Linked DNA regions of Homo sapiens: region 2 is linked to region 1. The links come from fine-mapping of genetic effects on gene expression. Tissue or cell type: whole blood. Region 1 holds a variant in brackets; the other region holds the start of a gene. All regions are shown on one strand. Distances are between the middles of the regions.

Evidence for each region. PIP is the estimated chance that this variant, and not a neighbour inherited with it, causes the effect.
Region 2: it holds the start of SEMA7A, and the variant in region 1 is fine-mapped to the expression of SEMA7A in whole blood (TOPMed, PIP above 0.99).

Annotation. Positions count from the first base shown.
Region 1 is chr15:74,398,796-74,406,898 of GRCh38, reverse strand. No RefSeq gene overlaps it. Among named protein-coding and RNA genes, the nearest start is that of MIR6881, 8.6 kb to the left of the region's middle. RefSeq lists enhancers at 879-978, 999-1,068, 1,089-1,138, 2,558-2,637, 2,898-3,167 and 7 more and a silencer at 3,723-3,932. The variant A/C (reference allele first, on the strand shown) is at 3,775.
Region 2 is chr15:74,430,337-74,438,439 of GRCh38, reverse strand. It overlaps SEMA7A (semaphorin 7A (JohnMiltonHagen blood group)), which reads left to right and starts at 4,482. Exons shown (of 14, transcript NM_003612.5): 1 at 4,482-4,699. The coding sequence starts at 4,522. RefSeq lists silencers at 4,340-4,849, 4,900-5,049, 5,200-5,319.

The DNA of each region.
Region 1 (8,103 bases):
AAGGCACAGCCCCTGCCCTGGAGACACTTAAAGCCTGGTAGGGAAGGGCTGTGGGCTGGACAGTGACCATACGTGTGACGGTCCTAGGTGGGAGGTGGGAGCTCAGAGGAGGAACCTAACCCATTGAGCGGAGTGCTCAGGGAAGGCTTTGAGTAGGGCCTTAGAGGATGTGTAGAAGTTCCCCAGGAGGAGAGTGACTGAATGGAGAGGGAACAGCATTTACAAAGGCCTGGGAGTGTGAGAGGGCCTGGGGTGTTATGGGCTCGCTGGAGTAAAGTGAGCTCCATGAAGCCAGAAATCCTTGGCAGTTTTGTTCACAGCTGTATCTCTAGTACCTAGAACAGTGCCTGGCACATATTAGGTGCTCAGGACATTCTTACTGAATGAATGAATAAGATGAGAGAAGGGAGAGTATCTAGAGGTGAGACTGGATGACTCCAGCAGTTCCCGATCCTGGGAACTAAAGCAAGATCTTTATCCTGCAGACACTAGGGAGCAATTGAAGGATTTTGAGCAGGGGTGGGGTAGATGATAATGATAATAATGGTGAGGATAATGGGAGCCTGAGATCCGTGTTTTCTTACACCCCATCTCTTACACCAAAGACCCACTCCTCACCATTTCCAGGTGTTTCTAGCTCCTTAAATGGTCCAATTTTAGCCTTCTGCTTACTGGAAAAGAAAGTGCAGCCATCCTGGCTACAGTGCCAGACAGGAGGTCTGTAGGCTTGGGCCAGTGGAATGGGGCTGAAATGGCTAAATCTGGCTCGGAAACACTTTTATCTCAATATTGGTTAACTCTGGGAGGAAGAGACCTTGGGAGAAAAACAAAAACAAAATCCACATTCTCAGGGTCACCAATGGCCATGAGTCAGCCCCCACCAAGGGAAGGAGCACAGAACCACACTCGGGAGGCGCTGGCCCTGTTAGTATGCTGGGGCGTTTCTGTAGGGTGGTGTTCACACCAGAACCGCTGCACTCGAACCAAGTCAAGGTCCCAGAACTCTGGCAGTTCTTTCAAGTTGGGCAAAATAAATGAGCTCAGAAGGGCTTAGGTAGAGGTGAACACGTCCTTTGGGGCTGAGCCTATATCATGGTGGGGAAACACATGGCTTGCAGCTTGATTCAGCTGTAGCCTATGCCTGGAGCAGGCATTGCTGATCAATTGTGGCATTCCTTTCCTGAGCTCATATGAGTGATTTTCTTCAGAACTTGCATTCTCTGGGGGCTACTGGGCACTTGAAATAGGGCTCATCTGAATTGAGATGTGCTGTAAGTATAAACAACACACTGGATTTTGAAAACATAATATGAAAAAAATGACCTTAAATTTTTACATCGATTACACTTTGAAATGATAATATTAGAGGTTGGGCGTGGTGGCTCACACCTGTAATCCCAGAGCTTTGGGAGGCTGAGGTCAGTAGATCACCTGAGGTCAGGAGTTTGAGACCAGCCTGGCTAACATGGTGAAACCCTGTCTCTACTAAAAATACAAAAATTAGGTGGGCATGGTGGCGTGTACCTGTAATCCCAGTTATTTGGGAGGCTGAGGCAGGAGAATCGCCTGAACCTGGGAGGCAAAGGTTGCAGTGAGCTGAGATTGCTCCATTTTACTCCAGCCTGGGCAACAAGAATGAAACTCTGTCTCAAAAAAAAAAGAAAAAAAGAAATGATAATATTTCAGATATAAGATATATTTGGCTAGATAACATACAAAAATTAATTCCACCTATTTCTTTAACTTTTTTTGTTGTTGTTGTTTTGTTTTTTAGATGGAGTCTTGCTCTGTAGCACAGAATGAAGTGCAGTGGCAGGACCTTGGCTCACCACAACCTTCGCCTCCCAGGTTAAGCGATTCTCCTACCTCAGCCTCCCGAGTAGCTGAGATTACAGGCGCCCGCCACCACGCCCGGCTAATGTTTGTATTTTCAGTAGAGACGGGGTTTCACCATGTTGGCCAGGCTGGTCTCCAACTCCTGACCTCAAATGATCTGCCCGCCTTGGCCTCCCAAAATGCTGGGATTACAGGCGTGAGCCACCGCTCCTGGTCTTCTTTAACTTTTATCTAGTGTGGCTACTGGAACATTTTAAATTATGTGTGTGGCTCATATTGTATTTCTGTTGGACAACACTGTTACGGAATATCTGCTCTGCGGGGGCAGGGAATTTTGTCTTTTTTTGTTCACAGCTAAATTTCATAGCACCTAGAGTAGCACCTAGCACACAGTAGGTGGTCAGTAAATTATTTGTGGAATGAATGAATGGATCCTCACCAGCATTTCTCCTTAGGAGTCACCAGCAATTGATCAGATGGAACTTATTTGCTACCCCGAGCCTAGCGGATGCTACACCACAGTGCTAACAACCCCCGTTTGTGCTTTCTGACTTTAGAGCTTGTGTCGCTCTCCTGGGACTCTCCTGATACCCAGTGGGGCAGGTGAAAGTGGACTCTGGTGAATGCACTGCTCCGCTGAGGGTCTTCTGAAAGGGAACGTTTCCGTTCCTTCTGATCAGGAAGCAGGGCAGTGTGCAAATGGTATGGAAATCACTTCTTGTGGGTGTTTGCCTATCTAGGGTGCTGGGGATACTTCCAGTCCACTTCCTGACCCCAGCCCTTGGTCCCTAGAGACAAAAGAGGAAGCTCTGGAGACTTTGAGCTCTGGGGGCAGATCGGGGGAACTGGGGCCCCCTTAGTCTTTCCCCAGCGAATGAGGGCTTGTAGCCCAGAGCATCCTCATCTCTCAATTCAGCAGGAGCCTAAAAATAGTCTGCAGTTTCAGCCTCCCCCACAGCCGCCCGCGCCAAGTGGGGCCCTGCGCCCGGCAGCTCCTCCACAATCCAGACTGTCTGCACAATCTGCCCCAGCTACCGACCCCCATCTCCTCGGCGTCTGTCCCATCCTGGCCCCTGAGAACCCTGAGCTCAGCACTCCCTGCTGTGAGGCCTGCTGAGGGTCTGCTTCACACTCTGCCTTTCCTAACAGCCTGGGCCCTGACCCCTGGAATTCCAGACCCCATGTTTTGTCCACTCTCCATTCTGGAGGGGACGCTAGCCAGACACAAGTGGGGTGAAGGTGTTGCAGGTAATGAAACCAGCACATGCAAAGCATGGGGTGCGAGAGAGCACAACATGCCATGGAAGGGGTGAGCCGGAAGGGCTGGGTGCACGGGATGGAGTACGGGGGCCAGTCCCAAGCTGGAAGGCAGCACCGCAGGTCTGTTGGCTCCCACCCCACGCGTGGATGCCCTGGAGTAGATGATGTCTTCGTCCAGCCCACGGTGGAGCAGGACTGCCCCTTGGATCAAGTAGCCTGCAGTAGCTCTGGTGCCACCCACACCTTGTGTAGAGCCCAGAAGGAACGCTTAGGTGCCAGGGCCTGTCTCCCTGTTTTGGGTCCTCCACATCTTGTGGGAAGCCCTGGTGCCTTCCGGCTCTGAGCTTCTGGGGTTCCTGCCTGCTTAGCAATACAGGAAGTCTCCTCAATGAGGTCCAGCAAGGGGAATGCCTCGAGGCAACCAGTACCTTGGTGGCAGAGCTGGAATGAAACCCTCCATATCCTGATGCCCAGCTGGGACCCGTCCCTCCCATCAATGTCGGGCGACCACTGCTGAGGACACATCCTGGTCAGAACCTGAGATACGGGGCTTGGGGACCTGCCCTGCAGAAGGGTTTCCTGGTGGCAGGAGTGAGTGTGCAGGTGACACTGCTGGCCCATGACGGTTCCACATTCTGAGTGAGCAGGGTCCCAGCTGCAGGAAGTGGTGGCGGCAGA[A/C]GTCACAGTCACCTTCCTCTCCTGGGGGCCGGCTTTCGGGGAAGCCAGGGGAAATGCTGAGCTCATGGGCTGTTCTTCCCACAGCTGGTTTCCAAGGCCTTTTCTTGTCCCTGACATCTCTCCACAGCCTCACCACAGCCCTCAGAGGCGGAATGCCATCGTGGGCATTACTGTCCCATTAGGCAGAGCAGGTGCAAGGCCAGCCTCTTGCTCTGAGCTACCTGCCCCTTCAGAGCCTGGCCTAGAACCTGGACTCCTGCCTCTTCCCACCTCCACACAACACCCTCCCCCAAGGAAACAGGGGTGGGTGGAATCTAGAAGCTTCTCAGGTGAGGTGAAGGTGTTGGGAAGGCATTAGAACTTGAGGTTTTCTCACCTCCACCAGCCCCTCATTTCCCAGCAGATGTGAGACCTCCTTGGTGTGCATGTCAGCCCGTGATAGGTCAGTCTCAGGACGTTTCCCCCAGCATGGGGCCTGTCAGAGGAGCTCCCCCTCCCCAGCCACCACAAGAGCCCAGTCACTGGGAGCGCCCCTGCACCCTGGAAGGCATCCGAGGGATCCAAGCCCATTCCTCAGCTTGAGGAAATGGCAGCCCCTGCAGAGGGCCCTGACTGGCCCTGTGAGTGTGGAGGTGGGGGCGTCCTAGCCCTGATACATCCTTTCCTGAACTCCACCCCAATCATGGGTATAAACACAGGCAGAACATCAATGAAGTGAGAGGAGAGTTGTCTGCCTTGGCAGCCAGCACCAGGGAAGATGGAACTGTGGCTTGTCTACCTGTCTGGCCTTCTGTTGTTCTCTGTCTCAGTCTCATTCTGTTTCCCTGTTGGTCTCTGTTTCTATTCTCTCTCTCTCTGTCTCTCCTTGTTCCTATTTCTCTCTCTGGCTTGACCTCTTATGCTCACTTACACAAAACAAGCATGCATATATACAACAGGTGGGCACATGGGACCACACGTATGACCTGCTCACCCATACACACGTACAAACATGCACATCTGTGCACACATGCATCCACACAGAATCCTCCCTCCTCAGATCCTGTATGTATATTCAGAGAAGGGGGTGGTGGTGAAGCTCTCTTTCCATGTATCCACAGGCTCAGGGAGAACCCACAGTTAATTTCCAGGCTGTTTCTGCCTCCCTGTCACTGGCAACTGGGAGCTTGGAGGAATAGGCTGGGATCCCCACTGATATCTGGGACTCTGGTGGGGATCTCTGGGCCATCATAACCTGCCAGTGAAGAGCATGAGAGGGGAGGGGGAGTCTCCGGAGGTGAGCAGAAGGGACGAGATAGGAAGATGAGATGTTGAGTTAGCAGTGCACTGGCCTGGAGGGCTCTCTGGCTCCTTCCCCTCCTGATGCTCTTCCTGGTGGTCCTGCTGAGATGCCCTATGACCCACCTGAGAGCTGGGGACCAGGGACGACTGGACCACAGGAGGCCCCAGAGGGAGGCGCCTGCAGGGAGGGAAGCCTCCTCAGTCATTTGCCCCACCCACAGAAAGCTGGAGGCTGGACGTCCCTAGGGTGTGTGGCCATGAGGAGAGAGCCTTTATTCCTGTCCTTTCAGGACAATGGGCCAGATGAGGCCCCACCAGGTACTTGGGTTTCCTGGGTGGGTCGGGGCTTTCCTGGAATGCTCAACCTTCCTGGTGTCCCAGGGTTGAGGTAACTGCATGGGAAGAGGGTAGGCAGGAAGCCCTTACGGTCTGTAAGGACCTGTCCTGCCCTGGAGTCTGGGTTCAGGTGGTCATCAGAGCCTGCACGCCTCCACCACTCTCAGCATGTGGGCCTGCTCCCTGTTCAGAGCAACCCCCTTACTGAGCACCTGTGTGGTGCAGGCTGTGCTGGGAGGAGGCTTGTGAAGAGCAGGTGAGCTAGGACTGGGCACCAGAGAAGGAGGAGCCCCTTTCGCTGCTGGGGCAGGAGCTAGAGCCCCCACGGGCATGTTTTGGTGTGGGGACAGATTCAACAGGAGCCCAGGGATCTTTCTGAAATGTGACACTTGCCTCCACCCTCCTTGCCAGAAAGGGACATTGCTCAGCCACCTGGCTCAGCTTCAATAAGCAAGTAGTAATAGTGGTGAACAAAAGCCAAATGCGTAAGTCACGCACCTGCCCGGGACTGTTCTGAAACTTTGTGTGAATTGTCTTGGTTAGTTTTCTCACCAGCCCTTTGAGGTTGATACTATTACTATTGTCTCCATTTCATAGTTCAAAGAACTGAGGCTGAGAAAGAGTAAGTAGTTTACCAAAATTTCACAACAAAAAGATGCATCTAATCTTTGTCCTCAAGAAACAGGGGTTCTACTTTTACTTTTTTTTTTTTTTTTTGAGATAGGATCTTGTTCTGTTGCCTAGGCTGGAGTGCGGTGGCACGATCTTGACTCACTGCAACCTCTGCCTCCCGAGTTCGAGTGATTCTCTTGCCTCAGCCTCTTGAGTAGCTGGGATTACACCACGCCTGGTTAATTTTTTTTTTTTTTTAATTTTTAGTAGATACGGGGTTTCACCATGTTGACCAGGCTTGTCTCAAACTCCTGACCTCAAGTCATCCACCTGCTTCAGCCTCCCAGAATGCTGGGATTACATGTGTGAGCCACTGTGCCCGGCCCAAGCTCCTGCTCTCTTTGCTGGGTTCGCGGTTAATACAAGTGATACACACAGCAGAGAGAAGCAGTCAGGTGGGCCACTCTGGCAAAATGGCAAAGATCAGGTCTGGGACAGAGTCTGCCCCAGTGACCAGGGTTCCCTACACAGAGTCCATTAGCACCCGAGTCTTGGACCTCAGAGGAAGATGATGGGATCACTTGTTCCAAGACACCCTGAGGCTCTGAGACAGGGAGGTCACCTGTCAATCTGTCCTACTTGGGACCGAGGTGGGCTGAGAGGCCCTCTGCTTGGGCTGCAGGGCCCCTGCAGGGGTTGAGGATCAGCTTTCTCCTCTCATTGGTTCCTGCCAGAACCATCTTAGGGAGCAGCTGCTGTGGGGGCTGCTCTCCCACAGCAGGGAACCCACATCCTGCCCCATTACAGCAAAGTGAGCATCCGGTGGGGGAAGGACCCCCACGGGGGGCCTGAAGCTGATGAAAGTTGAGTCAGGGTGACTCAGTGGAAGGCCTCTTCCCACTGCTGTCTCCAAGTGGAATACTGTGGTCAGACCAAAGGAAGAACTTCCCAACCTCTGGTCCCACATCTGGAATGCATGCCAAAAAGGGGTCTCTGAGAGAACATGGCAGTTTGGCAGTTCTCAGGCTCTGTCATGCTACATACTGACCTCAGAAAGACCCCGGGAGGCAGACTGCAGATGGGGAAACTGAGGAAAGGGACAGGACCTGTACCAGAGCTGGGACTGTAGCTGGACCTTGAGTCTGCTCATCATGGGGGCACCTGCCCAAGGAGAGGGCAGCACCCCACTGCAATGCCCCCTATGTTTCCCCAGAGCCCCTCTCCTCCCATCTGCTCCTCAGAGGCCTTGTCTCGAGGTAGGAGTGGAGTGAGGGGGTGGGGGTTTCCCTGAGCAAAGAATAGTTCTCCTGTAGGATGCTGTTTTAAGAAACACACAAATAGACAAGCCACCCAGCCAGTCAGACAAGTTTGGCTTTCCAAACCTGTCCCTGGGGTGGCTGTTGTTGCCTTTTTATTTATTTATTTATTTATTTATTTATTTATTATTTATTTATTTATGTATTTATTGAGTAAAGGTTCATATAACACAAATTTTGCCATTTCAAAATGCACATTGCAGTGGTTTTGAGTATATTCATAATGCTCTATGACACCTACCTCTAGCTAACTCTGGAACATTCCATCACCCCCAAGAAACCTCGTGCCTGTTAGCAGTTACTTCCCCTTTCCTTGTCCCCCAACTAATGTACTTTCTGTCTCTATGCATTTGTCTCTTCTGGACATTTTTTAAAAAATTAAATTAAATAATTTATTCAGAGATGAGGTCGCGCTATGTTTTCCAGGCTGGATTCAAACTCCTGGGCTCAAGTAATCCTCCTGCCTGGGCCTCCCAAATAGTTGGGACTACAGGCGTGAGCCACTGCATCCAGCTTCTAGGCATTTCATATAAATGGAATTGTACATGTCACCTTTTGTGTCTGACTTCTTTCACTTAGCATACTGTTTTCAGGGGTTATCATGTGGTAGCCTGAACCAGGACGCCCCATCTTCTCACTGCTGAATGAGAGCTCATTGTGTGGCTAGGCCATGTTGCTTATCTGTGCCTCAGTTGATGGACATGGACATTGTTCCCACTTTTCGGCTGTTATAATAATATCCAGAATAACGCTGTATGAATATTTGTGTACAAGTTTTTGTGTG
Region 2 (8,103 bases), 32 kb before region 1:
TTGGAGGCAGGCAGAGCACTGAGGGGAGGGTGAGGCATGGCCTGGGCAGCCTGAGAAGTGTCTTCTTGGCACTCCTTGCCTGACATGGTCTGCCAAGAGTTGGGCCAGGTATAGTGACTGTCGTGCCTGTGCCTGTGAGATAGTCACAGTGGGCACATGGTATGTTGGGGGTCCCAGATATGGGCCCCAGACCTGTTTTTATTTGCCCATATCCATCCTCCTTAACTTTTGAATTATTTGCCAATATTTTAAAAGAGAGAGTTTCAACAAAGAGTCAATTTTCTTTTCTTTTTTTTGATGGAGTCTCGCCCTGTCACCCAGGCTGGAGTGCAATGGCGCAATCTCAGCTCACTGCAACCTCCACCTCCCAGGTTCAAGTGATTCTCCTGCCTCAGCCTCCCAAGTAGCTGGGATTACAGTTGCGTGCCACCATGCCCGGCTAATGTTTACATTTTTAGTAGAAATGGGGTTTCACCATTTTGGCCAGGCTGGTCTCGAACTCCTGACCTTGTCAGATAAAAATGCATGTAGAATGATTAGGACAGAAATCATTGACCTTGTGATCCACCCACCTCGGTCTCCCAAAGTTCTGGGATTACAGCCGTGAGCCACCACCCCTGGCCTCTTTTTTCTTTTCTTTTCTTTTTTTTTTTTTTGAGACAGAGTTTCACTCTTGTGTCCCATGCTGGAGTGCAGTGGTGCGATCTTGGTTCACTGCAACCTCCGCCTCCTGGGTTTAAGTGATTTTCCTGCCTCAGCCTCCCAAGTAGCTGGAATTACAGGCGCTCGCTACCATGCCCGGCTAATTTTTGTATTTTTTAGTAGAGATGGGGTTTCACCATATTGTGCAGGCTGATCTTGAACTCCTGACCTCAGGTGATCCACCTGCCTTGGCCTCCCAAAGTGCTGGGATTACAGGCATGAGCCACCGTGCCCAGCCCTCAATTTTCAGCTTCTCTTGAAAATCATACTACCTTTCACTACTGGGTTTACTTCTTCATGGTTCCATGGGCTGGAGCTGAGTCGAAATTGCCTTATAGACAGCACAGGGTTCTGCAGACCCCAGCCCACCCACTCCCCTCGTTCTCATCAGTTCCAAGTCTCTGCCCCCTGCAATAGGTAGTAATGGTGGTAGGCAATAGGAATTGTTGCTGCTGTTAGTAGCCAGGAGGTCTGAATGGCCACCAAGCTCTGAGGCCTCAAAGAAGGGGTGGGATCTAGCATGGAGGGGGCTGTTGGGGATTGAATGCCCTCTGAGAGCTACTTCTAATCCTAAGAATTGGGATTCTTGGATCATCGTATCTGTGAAAGGAAGTGAACTGTGTGTGGGTGACCTCACGTCTGCATATGTTATCTCCTCACGGAATCCTTCTATCTCCCACAGGCCTCTTGTTTGAGGTGGGTCACTCCTGTGAAGGCCATGTGTAGCCATGGAATCAGGGCTGAGGAGGAGGTCAGATAACTCTGGAGAATGGAAGGATGAGTTAAGTTGGACCCTGAAAGGTGAGAGGCTTTAGTTGGAATGTTGGGGGGATTGCCCGGGGCTTCTGCCACTGCTTCAAGACCATGAATCTCAGGTCTGTGTGTATCCATTTCTTTCATTCCAAAAGGAGCCTTCTTGGATTGGGCTGTGCCTCAGCTGTCCATGGGGCTCAGGAAGTGATCCTTCTCAAGGTATTTTTCTTATCGATAGAAGCCCTGCATCATTTCTTCCTCCCTCCCCTGAATGTGGAATCATGGAGAAGGGAGGGACAAGAATGTGCCTCCCCATCAGACGTGTCAGCATCCACATGTGTTGCTTCCTCTGCTGGTCCACTTCCCATCACTGGCTGTGAGTGGGAATTGTGCCCCTGTTCTTGGTCCAGGCTCAAGAGCCAGCCTTGGCCTCCAATGAGGCAGGCAGGCCTCTGACACCACCTATACCATTCTGACTTGATTTTCCTATGCTGCCTGAGGCAGGAAAGTCCATGCCTAAACTCTGGTCATAGTGCCTGCCCCACAGTCTAGCTGCCTTTCCCTTTATAAAGTTATTGCCTCAAGTCATGGGCTTAGTTCTCTCCTCCCCTGGCTGCCTGCAGCCAACCGAGAGAGTGGGCTGCCATCTCGCCTGGCCCTTTGTCCCCAGGTTGGCTGGCTTGTGGGGAGGATGGTCTTAAGTACTACTTCCTTCCCCCCTACCCCCCAGTCTGGAAAAAAAATTATCTGGCATCTACCCCAGTTTCCATCTGCTACTCTGTTGATTGGGAGATTGAGCCCATTCCCTGGTCTGCCCTCCTACTCAGCACCTGGTGACCTGGGCCCTATCTAGGTCCTTCTGGGGATGGTTTGGACCCAGACTTCAGCCACAGACAGGAGGCAGCAGTGCCAGGGTACATCACACAGAGAGAAGTCAAGGGTGTGGGTCCTTGAGAAACCACCTGAGTTTCAATCCGTCCTGCCTCTAGTTGTGCGATCCTGGCACTTCACATCCCTTGTCTGTGCCTTGATTTCTTCATTTGTAAAGGGAGGTGACTAATAGCTCCTATCTCATAGGAGTGCGAAGATTGAATGAGTTGGGAGAGGCTATGAGATGGCACAGCACATAGGAACCACAGTGTTAGCAATTGTTATTGCAGTCAGAAAACCCATCTTCGTTCTACCATTTACCGGTTGACCTCGGGCAGGTCCGTCCTTGTCCCTCCCTGTACCTCAGTTTTCTTCTCTGCAGTGGAGTTACGCTCCCTCCCTCAGTGAGAGGAAGAGAGTGGAGGACTGGCAGAGATGAGGTAGGTGAATGTGGGTTATGTGTTGTGAGTTGCCATGCACATGGGCAGTGTTATCATTGATTTTGAATCCATTTGAATTCTTAGTTCCAAAAGGCAGAGACAGGTGATTTCTTAGTTTGCCCTAGCTTTGCATAGAGAGGACAGACACTGAGGGCAATACCTGTCTAGCAGGTGAAACCGAATGTCCATCTTAGAGGCTGGCCTGGGCCAGGCTCCACTGCTGGCTTCAGGGCCACAGGCTTAGGTGCAGGCCTGAGGAGGAGCTCTTAGACTGTCCACAGCCTCCCTCTCTGGGGCAGTGTGCCCCTGTGTATCAGGAGGCTGTTGGCTTCACCCAGTGGGCCAGGAACCTCACTCTGCACTGTCTCTGGAGGTACCTTGAGTTTACCTTCCTGGCCTGCTGGGGTGCCTCAGGACTCTGAGGGAAGAAGGAGGGGACAACTGGAAGCAAAATGTAGAATGGTAAAGCCAAACTTCTTGGTAGCAAAACTTTCCTGGTTCCAGGAGGTAAAAACAACAACCAAATGGTCCTGGCCCCATGGAGCAGGGCAGAGGGCAGAGGGCAGCCAGCCCACCGCCTTTGCTGGTGTCTGCAGTGCGTGAATCGTGTCTAGGTCTGTGAGTTCTGAAGGTTGGATGTTCACCTCTACTCCTTCCTCGGCCTGTCTCCTCTCAGTGCAGCTAGACATCCAGTAAACACTAGATAAGTACTTACTGAGCTGGGTGGATTTTCCATTCATGGTTCCCTGGGGCACAAGTGGAAGTGGTAGGTCTGGGCCCTGTCTGGTCTAGAGAGAGGAGACCCTTTTACAAAGGGCAGGCACGTAGTTCTGAGAGGAGGAGCTGATGGCAGAGCTGGCTGGACTGCTCAGGTAACTGCAGAGGGTCTGGGCCTGGACCCCCCAAGGGAGTCCCCACTGAATGGTCAGGTTGCCTGAGATAGCTGAGCCCTAGGCACTTTGCGGGCAGAGATCCCCTTAAGCTGCTTTGACCCTCCCTCCCCCACAGTGAGTGGGGCACGGGGGATGCTCCCCTCTCTACTTGGGGAAGGGGCCTTCCTAATTATATCCCCCTCCACTCACATGGAAATGAGTTTGGATTTTCTGAGCGTACACCAGCTGGCTTGGGGGGAGGCAGCCCAGAAGGCTGCTGGCTGGGAAAGGGAGGAGAAAGGAGAGGGAGGGGAAGGAGCCAGGCCAAGATGAAAAATTTCCAGTGTTCTCCCAGGCAAAGCAACAGCGGGTCCCTGAGTGCTCCCCACATATCATCGTTGTGCCTGCTGGTAGGCTCAGCAGGGAGCCGTGTCCACTTAGGCGAACGCATCCTCCGAGGACCATAGTCCTCAGGGTGCGAACCACTTAGCTGGCCATAGCAAGGTTGTTGGGTGTTGGACTCCTCTGCGCCCTTGGAGAGAGGTCCTCCACGACTTCTACGCCAATCTTTTTACGGGGTGCGGGGAGTGGAACTGAGGCCCAGAGAGGGGATAGGGCCTGCCGCCCCTGGCAGAAGACCACAAGTCTGGCTTGTCCGCAGCTGGGCTTTCCCCGTAGAGTTGCCCGGGAGAGGGTGGCGAAGGTTCCCCCAGCAGTTCCGCTCTCGCTCAGGAAAGCCAGTGAGGCGAGAAAAGGCTGCGAGGGGCGGGGGGAGGGGCGGGGTGGGGTCAGCGCTGGCTCCGCCTCCTGGCGCTTGGGTCTGCCTGCGGCCGGGCGCTGGCTCAGTCTCGGCTGATTGCCGCTGTCGCTCCCGGGGCCACGGGATGACGCCTCCTCCGCCCGGACGTGCCGCCCCCAGCGCACCGCGCGCCCGCGTCCCTGGCCCGCCGGCTCGGTTGGGGCTTCCGCTGCGGCTGCGGCTGCTGCTGCTGCTCTGGGCGGCCGCCGCCTCCGCCCAGGGCCACCTAAGGAGCGGACCCCGCATCTTCGCCGTCTGGAAAGGTAGGCGGCGCCGCGCGGCCGGTCAGGCGCGGGATCAGACGCTGCGCGGGGCGGGTGCGGAGTGTGCTGCACCCGGAGGGAGTGCGTGCGCGCAGCTCTGCGGGTCCCGGGCTGTCCCCGCGCTGTCCCCGCGTGGAGCGTGTGGGTTTGGGTGAGTGTGTGTGAGTGTACACGCTGGCACACCAGAGCCGGCTGTAACGCTGCGGCGAGCGAGCGGCGGGGGCCGGAGCCCCGGCTAAGTCGCACCAAGTCCCTGGCAGCCAGGAGCCGCAACGCCCGGGCGCCAGGGGAGGGGGCGGGCCCCTCTCTCGGCCCCGAGCCACTCTGGGTCCTCTGGCTCGGGGGCTTCGGCGGAGGACCTTTCCCCGCCTGGGACCCCAACCCGGGTACCCTCCTTTTGAGCTGCGGGCTCTGCTGGCGCGCGGGGCGCAGGCTGGGCCGGCAAGGGGGGCGCGGACCCCTTGCCGCCGCCGCCGCGCTTCGGCAGCGGGAACAAAGACCCCGCCGCCTGCCCCCGCCCCCGCCCCGGCCCGGAGCTCGGGCCAGGCAAGGGGGTGGGCATCCTGCAGCGAGCGGCGGGACATGGTGCGGTGCGGCGGCTTGGGGTACCAGGGCGCTGCCTCAGCAATGCCGGGACCGGCCGCTCCCCCCTTGCCCGCACGTGGCAGTTGTCACCAGAAATCGGCTCCAGCGTTGGGGGGCAGTGCCCGTTGGGTGGGGCACGGCCGTTGGGACCCCCAGGCGGTGGATCTAGGGCGGGGGTGCAGCCTTTAGGCCAGGGTAGATAATAAGAACCTGGGGGACTGGAGTCTCCCCCAGGGCACCTCAGTTTAGACCCTGTACTATGGGACAGAAAGCCGGTTAGGCGGGGGTTTGAGGCTTTCTGCCGCGAGGAACTGATCTCCCCTCCCCTGCATTGCACACAAATGCCTCCCCGCCCCCAGTCCGATTCGGCTCTGTCCCCAAATTTGGCGTGTCTGCGGCCCCCCTGTCGTGATGGTGGGGGACTCGCAGTGGGGGCTGGGGGAACTGGTCGGGTCTGGCCCCACCGGGAGCCTTTTGATGCCTTTGGCAGTTTGCAGGGATTGCGGGAGTCTGAGCATTATCTGGGGCAGGTATTATTAGCAGAGGGGAAAAAAAACCATACACAAAACGAGTGGCCCGAACTGCCGCAGTAGCTGAGGGAATGTGACTTGCCCAAGGTCACTGAGCAGTGTGGGAGCCCAGGTGCAGGCAGGGGCTCTGATCTGGCACAGGACCAGTCCAGGTTCTGGGTTAGGGAGGGGAGAAGGATTTAGGTGGTTCAGGGACCATGAATGAGGTGCTCTGGGGACCAGCTCGGCTACCCAGCCTGAGGTGCTCCTGGAGGAAGCCGAGCAGTGCTGCTAGAGCTCCGGCCGCCTGTACATGGAGGAGGCCTGCACACCCCTCTGCCATCCCAGCTCCAGCCCAAGCTTCCTTTGCCCTCCCAGCAGCTTTGCCTTCCCTCAGTCTCCTTGGCTGTCTTGGACATCATAGCGTGTGGGCACTCTGGAGGGGACAAATGGCCACATCTGAGTGTTCTGGAATCTTTCCCTCCATCAAACCCCTTGCATTTTGACTCTGTTTGCCTGTCCCAAAGTCTTCCCATGACCCCCCACCCCCACCCCACTTAATGCACACCCACTTCTTAGCACTTAATGCATACATCCCATCCTGGGCACTTAGTTCCCACCCTGAGGCTATTTAAAGTTGCTTTCAGTCCTCTTACCCACTTTTCGAAGCTCCCAGCACAGCTCCATGGCCTACCCCCCCGCCCGCAGTTCACTGCTGTAGCCACACTGGCTGTGCCCTCTGCTTAGTAATGCACTGTTGAGCCCCGCTGGCTGGGGTCTGCCAACCGTTCACCAGTCTTGTCCAACGACAGTCTGTGGTCTCCTTCACCAGTGCCAGGTGCCCCACTGGCCAGACAGGCCCTGCCATTCACCTGCCCCCCACCCCCAGGGCCACCAGCTGGTGATGGTGTGCCCGACTGACAGCTGCCTCCTGTCTCCTGTGGGGTGACACATGGCAATCGGACAGGAATGGGCTTGGGTAGGACAAACCCAGGAACAGGGTAAGAGGGGGTCTTTCTGGAAGCCTAGAGCTCTGTCTACCAGTGGTGGGTGGGAGTATGGTGGTATCCAGGAATGACAAAATCAGGGATGGTGGTGGTTCTGGAGCCATTTCTCTATGAGGCATAGATGGGGGTTTTAGTTTTGAGTCAGGACAGCTGTGGGGACTGGAATAGGTATGGAAAGTTCTTTATTTTCTGCTGCTTGGATCCCCAAGTTCTAGAGAAAGATTAAAGCAGGGAACTCTGAGAGGGGCCCAGCCTGCACTGATCAGGGAGATTGCTGCCTCTGCAGCTTGATGAAAGTCTGGCACAGCGTAGCTCAGGCCAGGGAGAGAGATGGGCCATCATGTACCTGCTGGGTGTCCTTGAGCTCCACACTTGTCTTTGACCCTTAGAGCCTGCCAGAGCAAGAAAGGCTGTAGGGATTGTCCCCCAAGGGCTGTCACTGACACATGGGCCAGTCAAGGATGTGCATGTGTGGTCCTGATCTTCCTGTAAGCAGGAACTGTAAGGGAGTAGATTGCAGGTGAGGGCTGGGGCTTAGCAGGAGGTTGGCATGCGTTTGTAAGCTGTGCACCCCTCTTCCATTTTATCAGTGGTTGGAGGAGCTAAAGAAGGCTTGGAACCCCAAGGTCAGAGGTGAACCAGCCTGTCCATGGGGAAACAGAACCCATATCCCCAGTCTCAACCTGCCCGGCTGGTTCTGCCCTCCCTCGCTTTTGTCCAGTGAAACAACGGGATGTTATTGTTGACTTGGTGGCTGCTGGGGAGCCATTCTGGGGCTGCTCCCCAGGGCAGGAGGTTGTTGTTACCTCCTCCAGGGGATGAGGTCACATCTGGGGCTTCCCAAGCATCAGCATTTCCAGTGGAAATCCTTGCCCCCTTGGGGACTTAGATGTGTTCATCACCTTCAAGGTGAACTCCCTCCACAGAGTCTCATGGTGGGGGGGCAATTCCCCGGAGGAGAGGGGGAGTTTCCTAAGCCAAGAGAGATGCTTGGTGAGGTCACCAGGAGCTTCCTACCAAGCTCTGTGACCCCTCTGTCCTGGACAGTGAAGATTCTGAGAGCAGGTCCGGTGGAATGGACGCTGGCACAGGTCCAATGATGACCATGGTATAGGGGAGAGAGCTGGGAGGTCGGGAGCCTGGTTCAGGCTGTGACCTAATTTGCTCTGTGACTGGGCAAGTCTTTGCCTTTTACTGAACCCCAGTTTCCCCAAATGCCCAAAGAGGGTAGGGGAGGGGGCTCATCCTTTTCTGAGATTTAATGTCTTAGGATTTCTCTCTCTCTGGGATGGGAGGGGCTGGG